2 separate regions of the Homo sapiens genome follow, and region 1 is linked to region 2. Evidence: fine-mapped expression QTL. Tissue or cell type: whole blood. Region 2 holds a variant in brackets; the other region holds the start of a gene. All regions are shown on one strand. Distances are between the middles of the regions.

What was found. PIP is the estimated chance that this variant, and not a neighbour inherited with it, causes the effect.
Region 1: it holds the start of CLIC4, and the variant in region 2 is fine-mapped to the expression of CLIC4 in whole blood (INTERVAL, PIP 0.92).

Annotation. Positions count from the first base shown.
Region 1 is chr1:24,741,338-24,749,513 of GRCh38, forward strand. CLIC4 (chloride intracellular channel 4) reads left to right here and starts at 4,110. Exons shown (of 6, transcript NM_013943.3): 1 at 4,110-4,288. The coding sequence starts at 4,217. RefSeq lists enhancers at 1,601-2,206, 3,419-4,024, 4,025-4,630 and silencers at 3,712-4,421, 4,522-4,681, 8,143-8,176.
Region 2 is chr1:24,716,597-24,724,772 of GRCh38, forward strand. No RefSeq gene overlaps it. Among named protein-coding and RNA genes, the nearest start is that of CLIC4, 25 kb to the right of the region's middle. RefSeq lists enhancers at 3,522-3,816, 7,524-8,176. The variant C/T (reference allele first, on the strand shown) is at 4,372.

The DNA of each region.
Region 1 (8,176 bases), 25 kb after region 2:
CCCCAGAGTCCATGTGCATAGCAGCTCATTCTGCTGCTGAAATTGCAGAACTTTGGGCTGAGACAGTCAGCGAGCAGCACCACAGAGTTAGAAGTGGGAGGAGGAAAGTGTCATCAAGGGAGGCTTACTGGAGGAAAACCTGACCCCCTGTGTAGGGGCAGTCATAAACACAAACCACCTGGCTTCCCAGACTGGAAGAGCGTGACAATCCAAATGTCATGTCAGGGGTACATGAAACCATAGGATAAACATGGTACAGTCACTCACTCCATAAGCTATTTTTTTTTTTTTTTGAGACAGAGTTTCGCTCTTGTTGTCCAGGCTGGAGTGCAATGGCGCAATCTCGGCTTACTGCAACCTCTGCCTCCCAGGTTCAAGCGATTCTCCTGCCTCAGCCTCCCAAGTAGCTGGGATTGCAGGCATGCACCACCATGCCTGGCTAATTTTTTGTATTTTTAGTGGAGACGGGGTTTCTCCATGTTGGTCAGGCTGGTCTCGAACTCCCGACCTCAGGTGATCCATCCGCCTTGGCCTCCCAAAATCCTGGGATTATAGGCGTGAGCCACTGCGCCCGGCCCACTCCATAAATTTTTATTGTGTACCATGAGCTGTCCTCTGAGCCAGGAATATAGCCATAAACAAAACCAAACAAAAAATCCCTGCCCTTATGGCATTTATGTTCTAGTGGGAGAAGACAGACAATAAGCAGATAAATAGGTAGATATGTATCAGAGGGTTGTAAGTGTTATGAAGAGAGATAAAGTGGAGGGTGGAGTGAAAGATAGCAACTTGCAACGTTGCATAGGGTGGTATTTGGGGAGAGCGCTCTGAGAAGATGACATTTGAGCAAAGAGCCAAAGGAAGTAAGGGAGTGGGAGTTGCAGAAATTCTGGGGGAAGAATGTTCCAGAGAGGGGGAAGAGCAAATGCAAAGGCCCTGAGGCCACAGTGTGCTTCGCATATCCAAGGACTAGAAAGGAGGCCAGTGAAGCTGGGGTGGAGAGCACAGGGGAGAATGGTAGGAGATGAGGTCAGAGGGGTGTGTGTGGGAGGAGACAACATGTCTCCACCCATCTTAAAGATTTCTGTGTGCTATAAAAACAAGCCTGAGTAAAGAATGTAAAGCAGGCATGCAATTCAAAATTCGAAGAGGAGACTTGACTGCTATGTGGTTAGGGGGCCTCCCCTGCATAAACATCCTCTTTCCCTTTCACCCACTCCCAGGACTGACTGCCCATCCATGGGAGCCATATGAGGGCGGAACTTGGGAAACTGTAGGTGTGACTGAGACTACGTCTAAGCACAGGCTCTGGGTCTGAGCCTCTTCCTGGGGGGCTTCCTGTTGGGTAGGAGGAGCCCAGGAGATCATCACCACCTCAGGGCTCTGTGGAGAATGCCCCTGGCTTCCTCCTAGCTAAGATCTCTGTTTAGTCAATGAAGCCTAAAGGGCCCTGGTCTGTTCCTCCTTCCATACCCTGGTGCTGTGAGGCCAGTTGGAGCCTGTGAAGGGCAAGTCACCACCGGGAATATTTGCTGCCTCTAACTCAAATTCTTTTTTTTTGAGATGGATTTCGCTCTGTCGCCCAGGCTGGAGTACAGTGGCGTGATCTCGGCTCACAGCCACCTTTGCCTCCCCGGTTCAAGCGATTCTCCTGCCTCAGCCTCCCGAGTAGCTAGGATTACAGGCATGTGCCACCACACCCGGCTAATTTTTGTATTTTTAGTAAAGATGGGGTTTCGCCATGCTGGCCAGGCTGGTCTCGAACTCCTGACCTCAGGTGATCCACTCGCCTCGGTCTCCCAACGTGTTGGGATTACAGGCATGAGCCACTGTGCCCGGCCTCAATTTGATCAATTCTCAGGTACATTGAGTTTCTGCTGAATTGTTTTTTGGCTTAGATCTGCTTTGAACTGATTCACCATTTGGTTCCTTTTTGGTAGGGCAGAGAGGGTGGATTCTGGAAGGAAACTTTGCTTCAGTTCATGATTCTATGAAAAATTAACACGGTTCAGTCCAGAGTCTAGTCAGTCACTTCAGGATTTTCATGGTTCAAGCCCCCATCTAAGGGGAGCCTCCTGGAATTTATTTATTTATTTTCAACGAACTAGCCGGGCATAGAGAGAGTAGAATATGATGCCACATTCTAGCCTGCAGGGGTGGTAGGGACAGAATAAGTCTCAATGCAGTTAACAGCCATACTGACGGAGCAGCACATATGGTAAGGCAAGAATCAGTAATTAGCCCCACCCACTTCTAGATAATGAAACTGAGGCTTAGGGGTTTTAAGGACACTGCCTTGTCAGATTTGAACTTAAACAGTCAGACTACAGAGCACGTGTTCCTGACCACTGGGATACACTGGCTCTTTCACAGAGCCTCTGTGAGAAAATTTGAGCAACTTACTTTGGGCTGGCAGAGGAAGAAATTGCAAGTTTCACTGTATTTTCATGCCTACGTACAATTTGTTCAAACATTCTGGTATGTGCTAGGCACCGAGGATATGGAGACAAACCTCCCATGTCTGGGCCTCCTGGAACTCACTATTTATCCCAACCTGGGAAGTTGGGAGGAGTAGCTGTGAGTCAAGTATTATGGAAAGTCAGAAAAGGGCACAAGTAATTGTTTCCAGAGGAGGTGAAACTTGCCCCAGGCACTCAACAGCAGCAAACTAGGACCAGGTGCCTACAATCTCAAGGCAAGCACAGCTCTTGCCCTCGGGGGCTTAAATCCCAGGGCAGTTTAACTGGTTTGCGGACCACCTACTTCAGAATTGTCCTGGTGCTTGCTAAGATGTGGATTTCTCTTTTTCCCAGAGGATCTGGGAAACACAAAAAGCGGGGCTGCGTGTAGCACCTAGGTGATTCTGATGCACACTCAAATTTGACAGGTGAGCCGGGGGGAAGAAATGGGTGTGGGCAGTGGGGAACAAGATGGACAACGACTTGGAAGTCCTTAGTGGCCTGCAGGCACTGAGATTGCAGTTCAAGATCTTGAGCTTTGGGAGTTGTTACTCTCCAAGGGCTAGCTCAGAGCCTGAAACACAGTAAGGTTTCATAAATATTTGTGAATATGCGCCCGGCGCGGTGGCTCACGCCTGTAATCCCAGCACTTTGGGAGGCCGAGGCGGGCGGATCACGAGGTCAGGAGATCGAGACCATCCTGACTAACACGGTGAAACCCCGTCTCTACTAAAAATACAAAAATTAGCCGGGCGCGGTGGCGGGTGCCTGTAGTCCCAGCTACTTGGGAGGCTGAGGCAGGAGAATGGCGTGAACCCGGGGCAGAGTTTGCAGTGAGCCGAGATCGCGCCACTGCACTCCAGCCTAGGCGATAGAGCCAGACTCCGTCTCAAAAAAAAAAAAAAAAAAAATATATATATATATATATATATTTGTGAATATGCTGGCTGCCAAGATCGAAACGATCAGGAGCGTCAAAGGGAAAAACGAAGTCAGAGGCAGAAGAAAAAGGTGTTCCCCAGGCGATGAAAACTTTCCAGTAAGTTGTCTTGGAAAAGGCAACTCCGCGTAATAGAGGGACTTGGGGAGGTAGCCGCTGCGGGAAAGGGCGATGAGTCCTGGGGTGCTGCAGCGGGGGAGTGGGTAGGAGGCGCCTCCTAGCTTCCCCAGGGCGGCCGAGGCATGAGGTCACCTGGCACAGCAACAGCAGCAGCTGCGGAGGACGCGCAGGCGCTGCGGCGGGAGGCAGTGTCAGGCTCGGGCCCCTGGGGAATTCCTCCCCTCCTTTCCCCCCCGCACCAGTCCCCTAGAGAGGCGTACCCGGGTCCCGCCCGCCAGAGCCTGAGCTTTGTACCGCCCACCAAGGCCACGCCCCCTACCAGCTGTGGGGCGCCGCAGAGGTCCTTTCTTCGGCTCCGGAGCGGTCCCTCCGCCTTCCCCGCTCGAGGCCACGCCCCCGTGCTCCTGCCGCCTTATTTTCCCCGGAGAGTCCCGAGGCGCCGCGCCTTGGCCCTGCCTACAGCCCGAGGCCCCGCCCCCGGCGCCCCTCCCAGCCGTTTGAAGCGGCTCGGGCTGCGGCTGGCTCAGAGTGGCGCGGGGGGCGTGGGGCGGTGCTGAGGAGCTGAAGCCGTGGCCAGCTCGACGCCGGACAGTCCAGCGAGCAGCACGGCGGGAACCGGCAGCCGGAGCAGTCCCGGAGCAGAAGCAGCAGCAGCAGCAGCAGCCCTCGCCGTTCGCGGAGCGCAGCCGAGCCGGCCATGGCGTTGTCGATGCCGCTGAATGGGCTGAAGGAGGAGGACAAAGAGCCCCTCATCGAGCTCTTCGTCAAGGTGAGCGCTCGCCTCGCGGTCCCGCCCGGCAGATCCCCCGGCTCCCTCCCGGCTGCGGGGAGCGGCGTCCCGGGGCTCTCCTGAGGCGCCCCCGCTCGGCGCCAGCACCCGTCCCGCTGCGGGCACCCGCGCCCCCGGCCCATTGTCTGGGGGCCGCCCGCGCCTTCCCGCCTCCGAGGGCCCGTCGAGGGGTCCGGGTTGGGGACCCGGGCGGCGGCCACCGTCTCCAGCGCGTAGGCATCGGCGGACGCCAGACCAGCGTCCCGCGCCCGGGTGGGTCGGGAAGAGCCCACGGGCGGGACTTGCCTGCCCCGGGGCCCCAGCGCCGGGCGCGCGCGGGTCCTGTCACCACCCCCCGCCCGGGCGCCGGGGCCCGGCCCCACCCGCTCCCCAGCGCTCCGGTCCGCCGCCCGGAGCCCGAACTGCGGCCCGCCGCCCGATGAGCTTTCAAACGAACTTCTTTGAACGCGTTTTTGAAAAAGCATTTGCTCCCCACTGGTCTGAAACGGAAACTTTAATTTTCGATGCAATCTTAAACAAATTTACCAAAGAGCAGGTGCTCTTGGACCTTCGGAAAAGACCGAGATTCCCAACTTGTGTTTTTCTGTCTTGGGCATTTACTGGCTTTCTCGTTTCTCAAGCGCGGAGTGTTCTGTATGATGCAACATTTTGGCTTCTCCCCCCGGCGTTGCTGCTTCGGGAAGGATTGTGTGTGCCCTTTTGTTTTGAAAGAAATTGAGGGAGAGAATTCTTAACTTGCTTGGGCTTTAAAGGGTTGGTTTTCCCTTGTGTCTTCAGCTTTCATGTGTGGAATTTATTTGCTTACACATACTACCCCTCTTCCTTTGCTTTTCTCTTTAATACTTTTTATTTTAGCAAAGGAGAGAGTCGAAGTTATAAACATCTGGATCCAGCTCCTTCCCTCAAAACTTAAAAAAAACACTTTGAGCTTCTTCCAGCCACTTAAAAAGCCAGGCTCATTCAGAGCTAGGCAACATACCGGAAAGTAAATGGTCATCTAGAACTATTGGGTTCTTTTTTTTCCCCGAGTTTTTACTTTAAAGAAAGGACATTTCAGGATGTGTTTAAGAGATAGAGAAGGGCTGGGCGCGGTGGCTCATGCCTGTAATCGCAGCACTTTCGGAGGCCGAGGTGGGAGGATTACTTGAGTCCAGCCTGAACAAGATGGCGAAACCCTGTCTCTACAAAAAAATTCAAAAATTAGCTGGGAGCGATGTTACGCGCCTGTACTACTCTGGAGGCTGCGGTGGGAGAACTGCTTGAGCCCGGGAGGTCGAGGCTGCAGTGAGCCACGTCGCACCACTGCATTCCAGCCTGGGCGACAGAGCAAGACCCTGTCTCAAACAAAAGAGATGGAGAGAAGAAATAATCTGCATTTACCTCTGCAGTCTTCAGTAATGACTGGAACAGTGTTTGCCTTAGGATTTTCTTTCAATTGTCAATTTTCGATTTTTTTTTTTTTTTTTTTTTTGGTCCAGGGAACTGAAACAGCAGACAGGTATAGAACCCCCAAAATATCAAAGCGTTTCGGTTACTTTGAGTGGCAGATATAGTACTTTGAGATGCGTAGAATGTAGGAAGGAACCTGAAATACAAGAAAGGAAGGAGGCCGGGCGCGGTGGCTCACGCCTGTAATCCCAGCACTTTGGGAGGCTGAGGTGGGCAGATCACGAGGTCAGGAGATCGAGACCATCCTGGCCAACATGGTGAAACCCCATCTCTACTAAAAATACAAAAATTAGCTGGGCGTGGTGGCGCGTGCCTGTAGTCCCAGCTACTCGGGAGGCTGAGGCAGGAGAATTGCTTGAACCCGGGAGGCAGAGGTTGTGGTGTGCGGAGATTGCGCCACTGTACTCCAGCCTGGGCAACAGAGTAAGACTCCATCTCAAAAAAAAAAAAAAAAAAGAAAGAAAGGAAGGGTGGTGGGTGGAAAACAGCATGGAGAAGGGAAACAAGTGGGCCAGAGATGAGTTAAAAAAAATTTTTACTGAGTGAGGAATAGGAAGGAATTTCCATAAACTCAAAAAAAGTGCATCCATGAATAATCTGTAAAACATGATACTTAACGGTGAAACTTTAGAACAGTATTAAACTTAGAATAAGCTACTATCGGGCCGGGTGAGGTGACTCACACCTGTAGCATTTTGGGATGCCGAGATGGGGAGATCACTTGAGGCCAGGAGTTCGAGACCAGCCTGGCCAACATGGTGAAACCCTGTCTCTACTAAAAATAGAAAAATTAGCCAGGCATGGTGGTGGGCCCAGCTATTCGGGAGGCTGAGGCATGAGAATCGCTTGAACCGGGGAGGCAAAGGTTGGAGTGAGCCAAGATCAAGTCACTGCACTCCAGCCTGGGCGACAGAGTGAGACTTCGTCTCAAAAAAAAAAAAAAAAAGATAAAGCTATTATCAGTTATGGCTCTATTCAGTATTCTATTATTCTATTGGAGGAGCTAATCAAAGAAGACAAGAAAAATTAAGTATCTGAATTAGGAAGAGATCAGTGATTAATGCCCTGCTTACTATTAATTTCATCTTTCAGTTAGAATAGCAGAGGGGCGTGTGCAGTTTTCCAAACTTGAGTCACTTGCATCCCCTTTCTGTTTTTCATATTTGTGTTGAGAACCACTGAAAATCATCCTTCCTACCACTAGTTGTAAGCCTTTCTCATTGGGCTTGGTGGCAGAGAATCAGGGTTCAAGTCACAGTTCTTTACTCCTTGGTTGGGTGACCCTAGGCAGTTTGTTTTCACTCTTTAAGCCTTGTTTGTCTCATTTGTGAAATAAGAAATGTTTTCTGCTACCCAGTGATTCAACATAGGCAAACTTTGCACTGATACAGATCAGGTTTTTTGTTTTTTTTTTTTTTTTTTTTTTTAATGAGATGGTGTCTCGCTCTGTCACCCTGGCTGCTGGAGTGCAGTGGCGCGATCTCGGCTCACTGCACCCTCTGCCTCCCAGGTTGAAGTGATTCTTCTGCCTTTGCCTTCCGAGGAGCGCATGCACCACTACGCCTGGCTGATTTTTGTATTTTAGAAGAGACTGGGTTTTACCATGTTGGCCAGGCTGGTCTCAAACTCCTGACCTTAAGTGATCTGCCTGCCTTGGCCTCCCAAAGTGCTGGGATTACAGGCTTGAGCCTCTGTGCTTGGCCCCTAGACCAGTTTGTTTGAAAGGGGAAAAAAGGACAGGTAAAATGTGGTAAAGGGCATTCTTGATCTCTTCTCAAAACCTACGTGTGGGAAATGCAAATGGGGGAAATACCCTTGTAAATATAGTTATTTTGAAAGCAGTGGACCAGGTGTGGTGGCACACTCCTGTAATCCCAGCCTTTTGGGAGGCGGAGGGGGGTGGATCACTTGATGTTGAGACCAGCCTGGGCAACATGGCGAAACCGCATTTCTACTAAAAATACAAAAATTAGCCACGCATAGTGGTGCATGGCTGTAATCCCAGCTACTCGGGAGACTGAGGCAGGAGAATTGCTTGAACCTGGGAGGCGGTGGTTGCAGTGAGCCGAGATAGTGCCACTGCACCCCAGCCTGGGTGACAGAGCAAGACTCCATCTCAAAAAATAAAAATTAAAAAAAAAAAAAAGAAAGTAGAGAGGGTGCAGAGGCTGTGGTTGTCCAGAGTGGTATGTTGAACAGTGTTAACCTGCCAAGAGGTATCTGAGTTTGTAAAAGAAAACTATTTACAGTTGAAGCACATAGCATGTATGGAAATTAGAAATTTGGTGGTGGCGCTAGGGGAAAGGCCAAGAGATGTAATGGGGCTTTGAGCCTACCTGTCTAGCTAGCACTGAGCTTCACATTTAAGAGAGAGAGATGAGCACCTTCTCAAATAGTATGACTGAACTCACAGCTGCA
Region 2 (8,176 bases):
TGCCTGGGGCATATGGAACTCTCCACTCCCCTGAATGCCCCATGTGCCTTGTGATTCTCTGCACTTGCTCCTGCTAGGCCCTCTGTCTGGGGTGGATTCACTTTTCCTGTTTTGAACTTGCTCAGCTTTTTTTTTTTTGAGACAGAGTCTTGCTCTGTCGCCCAGGTTGGAGTGCAGTGGCGCAATCTCAGCTCACTACAACCTCCGCTTCCCGGGTTCAAGTGATTTTCCTGCCTCAGCCTCCCAAGTAGCTGGGACTACAGGCATGCACCACCATGCCCGGCTAATTTTTGTATTTTTGGTAGAGATGGGGTTTCACCATGCTGGTGAGGGTGGTCTCAAACTTGAATCACTCAGGTGATCCACTCGCCTCGGCCTCCCAAAGCGCTAGGATTACAGGCGTGAGCCACCGTGCCAGGCCTTGCTCAGTTCTTAAAGGTCCAGTTCAAATGCCAGTTCCTCCATGGAGCCTTCCTCAACTGCTTCCCAGGGAGAATTTACTATTTGCACCTGTCTTCAGCACTATAGAGCCATTATTTCACTGTATCATAGTGATTCACTTGCCCATCCATCTCCCCCACTGGATTGTTGAGCTTCATGAACTGTGTGTGCTTTCTTTCTCCTTTCTCAATACCTAGTACCTGACCTGGCACAGAGTAGGCGCTCGGAATCCTGTGTCCAGTGACTTGAATATCCATCAGACTGGATGTTAGAGCTGTGGGGATGTGGCACTCACCCTGGAACTACTACTAGTTGCTATGCAGCCCATTCCCATCTCTGTGAACAACCTGAATTGTCCACCTTCCTTCAATCTAAAAATTCTACTCATCCATCAAGGAGCTCAATGCCCTGAGTATGTGAGGAGAGGGCTGCTTTGGAGTTGGACAGACTTGAGTTCAAGTCCTGGCTCTTCCATGTGGTACTCATGTGACGTAGGCCAAGTCATATAACTTTCTTGAGCTTCAGTTTCCATAAAATGGCAAACACATGGTGCTCATTATGTGCTGTGCCCATATCCTAATACTTCTAGTTCTTTTATCCTCCCTATGAGGTGTAGGTACCAGTCTCGTCCTCTTCCCAGTGATAAAGAGACTGAGGTCCAGAGAGGTTAAGTAAGCAAGGCCATGACTAGGACAGAGCCTTGGACAGACCTAGTGGCCGGGTAGGGGATGGAACCCAGGCAGCCTCTGCTCCAAGTCAATGCTCTTACCCCTCTACTGTCCTGCCTCTTGAAAAATGAGGATAGTACTAGAACCTTCTTCTTGGGGTACTTGTGAAATTTCACCTTCACATAATGTGTGTGGAGGGTACAGTAGAGCTGAAGCCCTTGCTGTTGGCACCGCGGTGTTCTCAGCCTAGTGGAGTCTAATCTTTCCAAAGAATCCTGGACTTTAGGGTCAAGCTGGAGGGAGGGGGGAGGTGGCTAGTCTAGCACAGCATCCACTTGGCTGTGGCTGCTTGGCAGAAGGACCCTGCTCATAATGCCCATTTGTCCAGACCGTAGTTCAATGACTTCTGCATTCTCTGCACGTACACCCTAGAAGGGATGGGATGGATGGGGGATGGCACTGGCTCTAGCCTGGCCAGGGAAAGCCAGCTGGGAATTAAGAGGTCTTGGGCAGCAGGACAACCCTGTGTCGAGAAACCTCAACTCTGCCACTGCCTAGAAGTGAGACCCTGGGTAAATCACACAACCTCCCTGGGGCTCAGTTCCTTCATCTGTGAAATGCGGACCTTAATGGTACCTCCTTCATCGGGTGGTGTGAGGAAGAAGATGTATTTTGCAAGTATGTTGTGGATATTCAGTAAAAGACAGTTAATGATCAGCCTCATGCTACTGTTTGGTTAGCCAGGCTGGCTGGGGTTCAATCTTGGCTCTACCATTTCCTAGTCATGTGATCTCAACTAAGTTACTTAACTTCTTGGCTCAGTTCCTCCCTGGTAAATTGGGAACAATCAAAAAACAATAATACAATAGCAGCTATGTGCCCCTCACAAAAAAGCGATCCCCAATTTTTAGTGATCCCAAGCAGCTCCCTGCCCCTCCCCAAGGCGTCAGTTTCCCTATTTGTTCAGGGAATTTTTTTTTTTCTTCTTGAGACGGAGTTTCACTCTGTTGCCCAGGCTGGAGTGCAGTGGCATGATCTCAGCTCACTGTAACCTCCGCTTCCCAGGTTCAAGCGATTCTCATGCCTCAGCCTCCCAAGTAGCTGAGATTACAGGTGTGCGCCACCACACCTGGCTACTTTTTGTATTTTTAGCAGAGATGGGGTTTCAGCATGTTGGCCAGGCTGGTCTTGAACTCCTCACCTCAAGTGATCTGCCTACCTCGACTTCCTAAAGTGCTGGGATTACAGGCGTGAGCCACCGTGCCTGGCCGGAACTTTTTTTAAAATAGAGACAGGGTTGGGCTCTGTCACCAGGATGGAATGCAGTGGTGCAATCATAGCTCCTGGGCTCAAGGAATCTTTCCGCCTCAATCTCCTGAGTGGCTAGGACTACAGGCATGTACCACCACACCCAGCTGATTTTAATTTTTCTTGGTAGAGATAGGGGTCTCACCATGTTGCCCAGGCTGGTCTTGAACTCTTGGCCTCAAGGATATTCCTGCCTCAAGGATACTTCCACCTCAGCCTTCCAAAGCATGAGGATGACAGGCATGAGCCACTGCACCCAGCCTTGTTCATGGAAATTTCAGCTTCACCGTAAGCGCCATGCCCTAACAGATTCCCAGGCTCCGCTTCATGTACTGAATTGGTCCCCCTGCGGGAGATGCCCGATGCCCTTTCTTGGGGCAGCTGCTGTGTCCACCTTGTTCACTGTGTCCCCAGCACCTGACCTGGGCCTGCACATGGTGGGCCCTTAGCAAATGTTTATTGAATTTATGTTTTTCATGTAACAAACATGAACTTAGTGCTTCTCATGTGCTAGGCACTCCTTTGCGTGCTTTACAGATATAAATGCATTTATTCTTTGGCAATCTTTTTTTTTTGAGACGGAGTTTCGCTCTTGTTGCCCAGGCTGGAGTGCAATGGCACAATCTCGGCTCACTGCAACCTCCTCCTCCTGGCTTCAAGCAATTCTTCTGCCTTAGCCTCCCGAGTAGCTGGGATTACAGGCATGTGCCTCCACGCCTGGCTAATTTTGTATTTTTAGTAGAGACGGGGTTTTTCCATGTTGGTCAGGCTGGTCTCAAACTCCCGACCTCAGGTGATCCGCCCGCCTTGACCTCCCAAAGTGCTGAGATTACAGGCGTGAGCCACCACCCCCGGCCTTACTCTTCAGCAATCTTGTAGAGAATGACTATTATTATCCCCATCGTTATTTTACAGATGAGGCAGTTGAGGCAGAGTTAAAGTAACATGCCTAGGATTCTAACCCAAGACCTCTGGCTTCAGGGTTCATCCTCTGGCCTTCTCTGACCCTGTCCCCTCTATTCAGGAGTTGGGGTACCCTGAGTACCCACACATCCACTGGTATCCATGGCTCATCTCTTGGGATGGGGTTCTCCCATCCTCTGGGCGAGAGCAGGGGCCGGCTGTGGGATGTGGGGAACCGAGTCATGGGCCTGGCCTCCAGGAGACAGTCAGCCAACACCTGCCAGTCCGCCAAGTCCCAAAACAGCCTGGGCGCAGCTCACATCCGGCTGTTGTTCCGGAGCCAGAGAGGAGAACAGGAAAGGCCAAGAGGCCTGGCTCCAAGCTGACTCATTGGGAGGTGGGACCAGGACAGGAAGGGCAAGGGGTCGCCAACTCCATCCTCCCTCCCTTGGACACTCACTGGAATAAGGCCGGGCCCTGGAGCCACAGGCCAGAATCCACCCACCATGGAGCTTCAGGGACCTCACAGACTCCCAGGGAGGAAACACATGTGAGTTTAAAAACCAAGCCAGGCCGGGCGCGGCGGCTCACGCCTGTAATCCCAGCACTTTGGGAGGCCCAAGGCAGGTGGATCATGAGGTCAGGAGATTGAGACCAGCCTGGCCAACCTGGTGAAACCCCACCTCTACTAAAAATACAAAAATTATCTGGGCGTGGTGGCGCGTGCCTGTAATCCCAGCTACTCGGGAGGCTGAGGTAGGAGAATCACTTGAACCAGGGAGTCAGAGGTTGCGGTGAGCGGAGATAGCACCACTGTGCTCCAGCCTGGGGGACAGAGCGACACTCCGTCTCAGAAAACAAACAAACACACAAAACCAGGCCATAGCATTTGGCTGGAGAGATGAAGGTTCTGCATGGCCAAATACTTTGATGACTTTCTTGGGTGCGAAAGGCACTGCCCTCTTCCTGGCCGTGGCCTGGAGGACAGGAGAGAGGGCTCTGGGTAAGGAAATGGGGCAGGAGGGCAGAAGGCTTGAGACCTGAAAGGCAG[C/T]GGGAAGGATGAATGTAGAGAAATCTCAGAGCCTGAAGAAAGAAGCCACCTGCCAAGAGTCCATGGGGAAGGCTGGCCCAAGAGAAGTCTCTGGAAAGGTTTGCTAGACTCTTTTTTTTTGAGACGGAGTTTTGCTCTTGTTGCCCAGGCTGGAGTGCAATGGCGCCATATCAGCTCACCACAACCTCCGCCTCCCACGTTCAAGCGATTCTCCTGCCTCAGCCTCCCGAGTAGCTGGGATTATAGGCACCGGCCACCATGCCTGGCTAATTTTGTATTTTTAGTAGAGACAGGGTTTCTCCATGTTGATCAGGCTGGTCTTGAACTCCTGACCTCAGGTGATCCACCCGCCTCGGCCTCCCAAAGTGCTGGGATTGAGAGGTGACAGTGTGCTGGCAGCCCTCCCAGCCCTCACTGGCTCTTGGCGCCTCCTCGGCCTTGACGCCCACTCTGGCCATGCTTGAGGAGCCCTTCAACCCGCCGCTGTACTGTGGGAGCCCCTTTCTGGGCTGGCCAAGCCCAGAGCCGGCTCCCTCAGCTTGCGGGGAGGTGTGGAGGGAGAGGCGCGGGTGGGAACCCGGGCTGCGTGCAGTGCTTGCGGCCAGCGCGAGTTCCGGGTGGGCGTGGGCTCGGCGGGCCCCGCACTGGGAGCCTCCGGCCGGCCCCACCGGCCCTGGGCAATGAGGGGCTTAGCACCTGGGCCAGCAGCTGCTGTGCTCGACTTCTCGCTGGGCCTTAGCTGCCTCCCCACGCCGCAGGGCTCGGGACCTGCAGCCCACCATGCCTGAGCCTCCCCCGACCCCCGTGGGCTCCTGTGCGGCCCGAGCCTCCCTGACGAGCTCCGCCCCCTGCTCCACAGCGCCCAGTCCCATCGACCACCGGAGGGCTGAGGAGTGTGGGCACACGGCACGGGACCGGCAGGCAGCTCCACCTGTGGCCCTGGTACAGGATCCACTGGGTGAAGCCCGCTGGGCTCCTGAGTCTGGTGGGGACTTGGAGAACATTTATGTCTAGCTAAGGGATTGTAAATACACCAATGGACACTCTGTATCTAGCTCAAGGTTTGTAAACACACCAATCAGAACCGTGTGTCTAGCTCAGGGTTTGTGAATGCACCAATGGACACTCTGTATCTAGCTACTCTGGTGGGGACTTGGAGAACCTTTGTGTTGACACTTTATATCTAGCTAATATAGCTGGGACATGGAGAACTTTTGTGTCTAGCTCAGGGATTGTAAACGCACCAATCAGCTCTCTGTAAAATGGACCAATCGGCTCTCTGTAAAATGGACCAATCAGCAGGATGTGGGTGGGGCCAGGTAAGAATAAATGCAGGCTGCCTGAGGTAGCAGTAGTAACCCGCTGGAGTTCCCTTCCACACTGTGGAGACTTTGTTTTTTCACTCTTTGCAATAAATCTTGCTACTGCTCACTCTTTGGGTCCACACTGCCTTTATGAGTTGTAACACTCACCATGAAGGTCTGTGACTTCACTGCTGAAGCCAGCGAGATCCCAAACCCACCGGGAGGAAAGAACAACTCCAGATGCACCACCTTAAGAGCCCTAAGAGCTGTAACACTCACCGTGAAGGTCTGCAGCTTCACTCCTGAGCCAGTGAGACCGTGCACCCACCAGAAGGAAGAAACTCCGAACACATCTGAACATCAAAAGGAACAAACTCCAGACACGCCGCCTTTGAGAACTGTAACACTCACCGCGAGGGTCCGTGGTTTTATTCTTGAAGTCAGTGAGACCAAGAACCCACCAATTCTGGACACAGGATTACAGGCGTGAGCCACCGCACCCGGCCCTTTTTTTTTTTTTTTGAGATGGAGTTTCGCTTTTGTTGCCCAGGCTGGAATGCAGTGGCATGATAGCTCACCACAATCTCCGCCTCCTAGGTTCAAGTAATTCTACATCATTCTCTCTAGTAGCTGGGATTACAGGCATGTGCCATCACGCCCTGCTAATTTTGTATTTTTAATACAGATGGGGTTTCTCCATGTGGGTCAGTCTGGTCTTGAACTCCGGACCTCAGGTGATCCACCCGCCTTGACCTCCCAAAATGCTGGGATTACAGGCATGAGTCACTGCACCCAGCTATACAGCTTATTTTGAGACAGTCTCACTCTGTCACCCAGGCTGCAGTGCAGTGAGTGTTAATCTATGCACATAAAGCTCTCAGAATAGTGCCTGACAGACGTTAAGCACTCAATTTTTTATTTTTATTTATTTTTTTTTTTTTTGAGGCAGGGTCTCACTCCCATCACCCAGGCTGGAGTGCAGTGGCATGATCTCGGCTCACTACAGCCTCAACCTCCCAGCACAAGCAATCTGCCTACCTCAGCCCCACAAGTAGCTGAGACTATGGATGTGCGCCACCATGCCCAGCTAATTTTTGTATTTTTTGTAGAGATGGGGTTTCACCATGTTGCCCAGGTTGGTCTCGACCTCTTCAGTTCAAGTGATTCACCTGCCTTGGCCTCCCAAAGTGCTGGGATTAGAGGCGTGAGCCACTGCACAGGGCCAAGTGCTCAATAAATTAAATGTGAGTTTGTGCAAGGTGATTACGTGTGAACACTCGACTCAATTGGCTTAAACATAAAATTTATTTTTAATTAATTTATGATGGAGTTTCACTCTTGTCGCCCAGGCTGGAGTGCACTGGCATGATCTCAGCTCACTGCAACCTCCGCCTCCTGGGTTCAAGCAATTCTCCTGCCTCAGCCTCCCGAGTAGCTGGGATTACAGGTGCGCACCACCATGCCCGGCTAATAATTGATTTCTTTTTTTAAATGGAGTCTTGTTCCAGCCCAGGCTGGAGTGCAGTGGTGCGATCTCGGCTGACTGCAACCTCTGCCTCCTGGGTTCAAGAGATTCTCCTGCTTCAGCCTCCTGAGTAGTTGGGATTACAGGCGCACACCACCACACCCAGCTAATTTTTGTATTTTTTAGTAGAGACGGGGTTTCATCATGTTGGTCAGGCTGGTCTCGAACTCCTGACCTCGTGATCTGCCGCCTCGGCCTCCCAAAGTTCTGGGATTACAGGCGTGAGCCAGTGTGCCCAGCCTATTTATTATTTTTATTATTATTTTTTGAGATGGAGTCTCACTCTGTTGCCCAGGCTGGAGTGCAGTGGTGGATCTTGGCTCACTGCAACCTCCACCTCCTGGGTGTAAGAGATTTTCATGTCTCAGCCTCCCAAATAGTTGGGACTACAGACGTGTGCCACCTCACCCAGCTAATTTTTGTATTTTTGGTAGAGACAGGGTTTTGCCATGTTGGCCAGGCTGATTTCCAACTCCTGACCTCAAGTGATCCGCCCGCCTCGGCCTCTGAAAATGCTGGGATTACAGGCATGAGCCACTGTGCCCCGCGGAAAGAAATCTATTATTTTACCAACAGGAAGTCCCAGGAGATTCTTGGCCTTGGAATGGATTGATTCGCTGGTTCAGTGATGGCACAGGGACCCAGGAACTTTGTCTCCGCTGCTGCCTCCCTTTAGGTTGGCTTCAGCTCAAGGGCAACTACCCTTTTGGTAACAAGACGGTTGCCAGCAACACCTAAGGGACGAGGTATCCTGGTCTTCCTTAGCAAGGAGAAGGCCGGCTCCCTTAGCAAGGAGAAGGCCGGCTCCCTAAGCCAGACATTTAAATCCTTCCCTTCAGTCTGATTGGGTGAGCTGGGTCATGTGGTCACCTCTGTACCAACCACAGCACCAAGACAATGCAAGGAGCTGATTGGCTTACATTCCTCGGGATTCACCCCTGGAGCTGAGACGGGTGGCCACTGAGGGCTGGGGGAA